2 separate regions of the Homo sapiens genome follow, and region 2 is linked to region 1. The links come from fine-mapping of genetic effects on gene expression. A gene starts in region 1. The other region holds a variant in brackets. All regions are shown on one strand. Distances are from middle to middle.

What was found.
Region 2: its variant is fine-mapped to the expression of ZXDC in whole blood (TOPMed, PIP above 0.99).

Annotation. Positions count from the first base shown.
Region 1 is chr3:126,474,366-126,477,271 of GRCh38, forward strand. It overlaps ZXDC (ZXD family zinc finger C), which reads right to left and starts at 1,526. Exons shown (of 10, transcript NM_025112.5): 1 at 594-1,526. The coding sequence starts at 1,500. RefSeq lists an enhancer at 1-398 and silencers at 956-1,215, 1,286-1,795.
Region 2 is chr3:126,443,130-126,446,035 of GRCh38, forward strand. The region is part of intron 7 of ZXDC (ZXD family zinc finger C); the gene reads right to left. Among named protein-coding and RNA genes, the nearest start is that of ZXDC, 31 kb to the right of the region's middle. The variant C/T (reference allele first, on the strand shown) is at 1,687.

The DNA.
Region 1 (2,906 bases):
CAGCAGTGGACTTTATCCACAAGGCTCGGCCTCTGTCTCTTCATCTGTAAAAGAGGACAGTTTTTAACCTTCACAGACGGCTAATTTTTAAAACTTCACAAAACTGTGAGGTTCAACGGAAATCAAAGTGCAAAAGGCAAAAAAAGCCAGGATGTGCGCACACCTGTGGCTATCCTCCCAGCGTGTTAAGGTCCTGAATCTGGCCACATTCATCTCTGCTCCTCTAGCACGGAGTGTGCACCCCGTAAACAAATGACGAGACTGAGGAAAATAAAGACCTGACACATAGCTCCGTGCCACTCTGTGAAGATGCGTGCCGCTTTCATCAAGCACAAGCAGGTTAAGGATATCTGTTGCCGCCACCTTTGGGAAGCGCAGCTGTGGTGATCTGCGCTACCTGCCATCGGAATCCCTGCGGCAGGGCAGGGCCAAGATCTCAAATCGAATGACATGGAAGGAGCTAGAATACAAATCCCGAAGAGCCTGCGTCCCCGGCTTGCTAAGGTCTGGCAGGCCCCTCTGTGGGGCGGACGTGGCACCCCAGACCTGCCTGCAACACCGCGCAGCCCGCCCGCCCCCGAGAGCGCGGTTACCGGGAAAGTCACACTTGTAAGGGCGCTCGGGCTCGAAGTGGCTGCGCTGGTGGGAGCTGAGCTTGGCGTGCGTGGGGAAGCGCTCGGCGCACACCTCGCACTTGAACAGGCTCTCCTGCTCGTGGCCCTTCATGTGCGCCTTGAGGTTATAGACCGTAGTGAACTTCTTGCCACAGCCGCCCACTGGACAGCCGAAGGGCCGCAGCTTGTCGTGCGACTGCAGGTGCCGCTTGAGCTTGTAGGACGTTGTGAAGGCCCAACCACAGCCCTCCAGTGGGCACTTGAAGGGCCGCCGGCCCTGACCGCCGCCGTGCGTGAGCAGGTGCACCTTGAGCTGGTGCTTCTTGGCGAAGGCCAGCGCGCACTGCGGCTCGGGGCAGCGGTAGCCGGGCGTGCTGGGGCCGGAGGCCTGGGGCGCGCGGCGGGGAGCGGCGGCGCCCGCGGTTGCGGGGCCGGGCGGCGCAGACAGCGCGAGGACGCCGCGGTCGAGACGCACCAGCAGGTCCTGGCTGCTGATGGTGACGGCGCCCGCCGGGGCTACGCCAGGGCCGGGGGGGGCGGCCGGGCCGCTGGGGCCCTGCTCGGGGCGGCTCGCCAGGTTGACACGGGAGCCAGGCTCGGCCTCCTGTGATCCGGCAGCCTCGGCGGCAGCGCCGCCGTGCGGCACTTCCAGCAGCACCAAGAAAGAGTCGCCGTCGCTGTCGTCCTCGGCGGGCGGCGGGCTTGGCCCGGAGGCCTCCCCGGGCCGCGCCCCGGGCCCGCCATCTTCAGGGCCCCGCACCAGTAGCAGGCGGCGGCGCGCGGGGCTCGCGCCGAGCGGCGCTGGGGCTCGGCGGAGCGGGCCGGGGCCGCCGCCATGTTGCCCTCCGCGCGCAGTCGGGGCGGGGAGCAGCGCCGGGAGGTCCATCTTGGTCCCAGCGACGGCGTCGGAGCAGCTTCGGACGCAGAGCTGCCCGCGCCCCGCCCAGGTGTGCGTGCGCCGCCCCGGGACGCGATCCGCGCCAAGCCCCGGCGTAGAGTCCGGCTCGGAACCGCGCGTGCGCGGACGCCGCCGGGCGATGCGCGAGGCCTGCTGGGCTGACGTGACGTGAGGCTGGGCTGCGGGGCGCCGGAGGCGGAGGCGGGGGCGGGGCGCCGGGACCGACTAGGGCGGGGCGCGGGGTCGGGGGGCGGGGCGCGGGGTCGGGGGGCGGGGCGCGGGGTCGGGGGGCGGGGCGCGGGGTCGGGGGGCGGGGCGCGGGGTCGGGGGGCGGGGCGCGGGGTCGGGGGGCGGAGCGCCGGCACCTACGAGGGCGAGCGGCGGGGCACGGGACCGACAGGGGACGGGGTGAGGCTCCCAACGCTGAGCGATTCCTTCTCGTTCCCGCTGGCGTGGAAGACGAGGCTTGTCTTGACTTCGAATCGTATTAATATTTCAGACACTTAACAGGCAACCTCTCGTAGGCATTGACTGCGTCCCAGGGGCTGTACCTGTCCGAGCTGATTAAGCGTGCGCGGTCACCCAGGGGTGAGGAAACAGGGACGGCGAGCTCGAGTCACTCGGCAGCCGGCAGATCCAGGATTCGAACCTGTCCAACAGGCCGGACGCCTACCCCCAGCTCACTTAAGTGCAAGCTCGCCTGCCGCCGCTGGCGCACAGACCTCGTTTGCTTTGGCCCAGGTCCTTGCTCGGCACACGGGGCCTCCCTGATACGCAGGACCCCTGCCTGTATTTCCAACTGTATTTCCTACTAAACTTGGCACAACCTCACTCTGCAACAGCTTAATTACTTACTGTTTCCGGTCCTCACCCTCCCCCACCTCACCGTACACCTCCGCATTCAATCTGGACTCCTCCACTTCAACTTCACCACCACTCAGATCCAAACCCGCACTTTATTCCTGGGTACCTGAAAAATAACTACTAGCTGGTCATCGGTCTCCCTCCGCTCCACTCGCTCCCATCCACGGGGCACCGTTTTATGATCTAAAAATTGCACATCAAATTATGCTCACCTCCACCTTGCTCCCGAAGGCGCCTATGGCCTTGCTAGTCTACCCTCCCCTACCTGTTTGCCCTCACTTCCCGCCACTCTCCCGCTGCCCCCCCCACCCCTCCCCCGCACCCCACCTCTTTTTCCCAGTTCATCCAGCAAGCCAAGCTGGTTCCAGCCTCAGAGACTTGGCGCAGCTGATCTCTGATTCCTCTGGGAGGACTCTGCGCCCCTTCTGATCCAAAGCACATGCTTACCCAGTCCCGTATTCCCACCTCTGTCTGATCTGTTTGCTCTTAGAGCTCTCATCACCCGTTGTTTTGTTGAGTTCCTTCCCTGC
Region 2 (2,906 bases), 31 kb before region 1:
TTTTCTTTGAAGTGCAAATGCTAACCAGGAGGTTTCTGGGTAACACAGATTCAGTTCCCCCTCACTGCAGGGAGATGCACTTCCATTACAAAATACTTCCTTTCTGTTCATCCATCAGTGTTCCAGAAAACCCAGCAACCCTCGCTCTGGATCATCTCTGACTGTTCTCCACGCCTGGTTTCTCTTTTTCTAATTGCTCTACTTGCTTCAGACAGAAGAGCAGGGCTGGGTCTGGGGCAAGAGAGGTGCCTGGGGCACAAAACTTACTCACCCCTCCTTGAGGAAACTTCACATCAGTTCCTAGTACTGCAGTCTATTAAGTCTGCAATAACATTATGTCTAAAACAATGCATACCTTAATTTAAAAATACTTTATTGCTAACAAATACCGACATAGACATGAAGTGAGAACATGCTGTTGGAAAAATGGTGCCAACAGACTTGCTGGATACAGGTTTGCCACAAACCTTCAATTTGTAAAAAGCAAAAAAAAAGTCAACTGCAAAAAATGAAGCGTGCCTATATCCTCCGTGAGCTTGTATACTATCCCACTTACCTCCAGAATTTTACCTGAATGCATTTCTATGCTTTCAAGTCTTTTATCACCCTAGCATATAAAAATATGTACATAAACTTAACTTTTATTTAACTTCTAGGCATTAACATTTTTGGTTTGAACTGTTACAACTGCAATTATTAGTAATGCAAAACAAATCAAAACAAAATATATCAGAAACTTTGATAGATAATTATGATATTAAAAGCAAAATTATATTAAAAATGCTTTTCAAGAGGAGTGGGACTGACTGGTGGTTTTCTTCCCCAGTTAGTTCATGTATTTGTGTCTAAATATTACTTCTTGCTAGAATTAGACATGGTCAGCATCTATTCTTGTCAATTAAAAACTTTTTTAAAATAAGATGCTCATGTGTCATCACAACTTTGCAGCTGCAGGTTGAGTTTATTCAAGTGAGGGGGAACTGCCTGCCCACGAAGCCCCAGCAGCAGGGCCGGTGCTGCAGCCAGAACAGTCGCATTACGCTTGCTTTCTAATAAAAGGCCTGGCTTCATTTTTAAATTCAAATAAAAATACTGAAACATGTTATTATATTAGAAATATTGGCCGGGCGCAGTGGCTCACGCCTGTAATCCCAGCGCTTTGGGAGGCCAAGGCGGGCAGATTACAAGGTCAGGAGATCGAGACCATCCTGGCTAACACGGTGAAACCTCGTCTCTACTAAAAATACAAAAAATTAGCCAGTGGTGGTGGCGGGTGCCTGTAGTCCCAGCTACTCGGGAGGCTGAGGCAGGAGAATGGCATGAACCCAGGAGGCAGAGCTTGCAGTGAGCCGAGATCATGCCACTGCACTCCAGCCTGGGTGACAGAGCGAGACTCCCTCTCAAAAAAAAAAAATAATAATAATATGAAAACCACTGTAGAATAAATTAAGGCAGGCAGTGAATAGTGTATCTCTCCAGATTTCTTTTAAAAGCAGGCAAGATTTTAAATGATGTATATCAAGTATTTATTATCAAGTTTTATAACATAAACAAGATAAAACTGAGCCATTCATCATGATTCAATGCCAAATGTGTACGCCACGCTCTAAGTTACCTACAAAGCAAGAAATATGACTGAATCCTAATATTCCTTTGCAAAATGTGTGCTAGAATGTATGTGCCATT[C/T]GAATCATGGGAAAATCAGAATTGGGTGCAAAATCAGAAATAATTCCACTAATGTTGCTAGACATGGTTACACTTTCCTTTTATACCTAAACCAGTAACTAAAATGATTCTATCTTTATTAACAATTTACTTGTATTACTTTTACAACAGGAAAAAAGATAGGCTGTAACGAGAATATCTCATGACAAGCTAAATTGGTTTCAACTTCTGTATCAGCATACAATATGAAAAAAAATCACAGGAATTTCTTTTCAATCCGCACATTTAATTCAGTGTCTCAGGTAGTCCTGTAGACACCAGTTACACTGAGAAGAAACACCACCACTAATTTGCATCAGAAGGTATTTTTCTTCCCAGCTAACAACTCGTCTAGGGATAAAAAGTCAATAGCTGAAAAGAATTGCTCACGCTTATACATACATAGGGCTCATTCCTGAAAAGTAATACATTCTTTGACAACAGCAGAGGGCTGGCAAAGGTGAGGACTTTCTACGAGAGATGTCCATCCATGCCCCACATCCCCTCTCTGATGTACCTCAAGCAGAACATCTCAGCGTCCACCCCTAGACACATCTCTGCACAGGAAGGGTAAGCTGGCAAGCCCGGCTCATTAAAGTTTTAATGTCGGTATTATTCTACAGGATGCTTCCCTGAAACCAGTATTTGGAACTGCCCCTGGGTTTGGTGCTCTGGAAGGATATCCTGTTTTTGTGTGCACTCCAAGGCAACACACTGCAGTAGAAGTCTGGTGGAGAGTTGCAGCCTCCCCGTTTTTTGGCAAGCAGAAGGACAGCTGTGGGTGAGGGGGAGAACCTGCCACAGATGAGCTCGGACACCCCTTCTCAGAGAGTCCGTTCCAGCAAGGACTGCACCTGGAAGATGAACCTGGAAAGGATGCAGGGGTCCAGGCCAACAGCTGTGAGAGAACAGGGCAGCCAGGGGAGGAGGGGCCAAGCCCCAGTTGCTGAGTTGTCCCCCAGGCCTGAGCAGGGTGTTCTGTCCTAGAATCCCTGACGGTACACCCTGAAGTCTGGTGGTATGTCGTGAACATTTAAGATGGCTGAAAGTTAATCATAAACTTCCTGGGTTAACTAAGCAAGTATGTTTATCTAGGGATGCTTAAGGACATGCCAAAGCAAACAAATGGGGTCCACACCACGTCCTCACGATAACCATGAAGCCCTGGGTCCTCACTAGTAAAGGGCGCCATGGCATCAAAT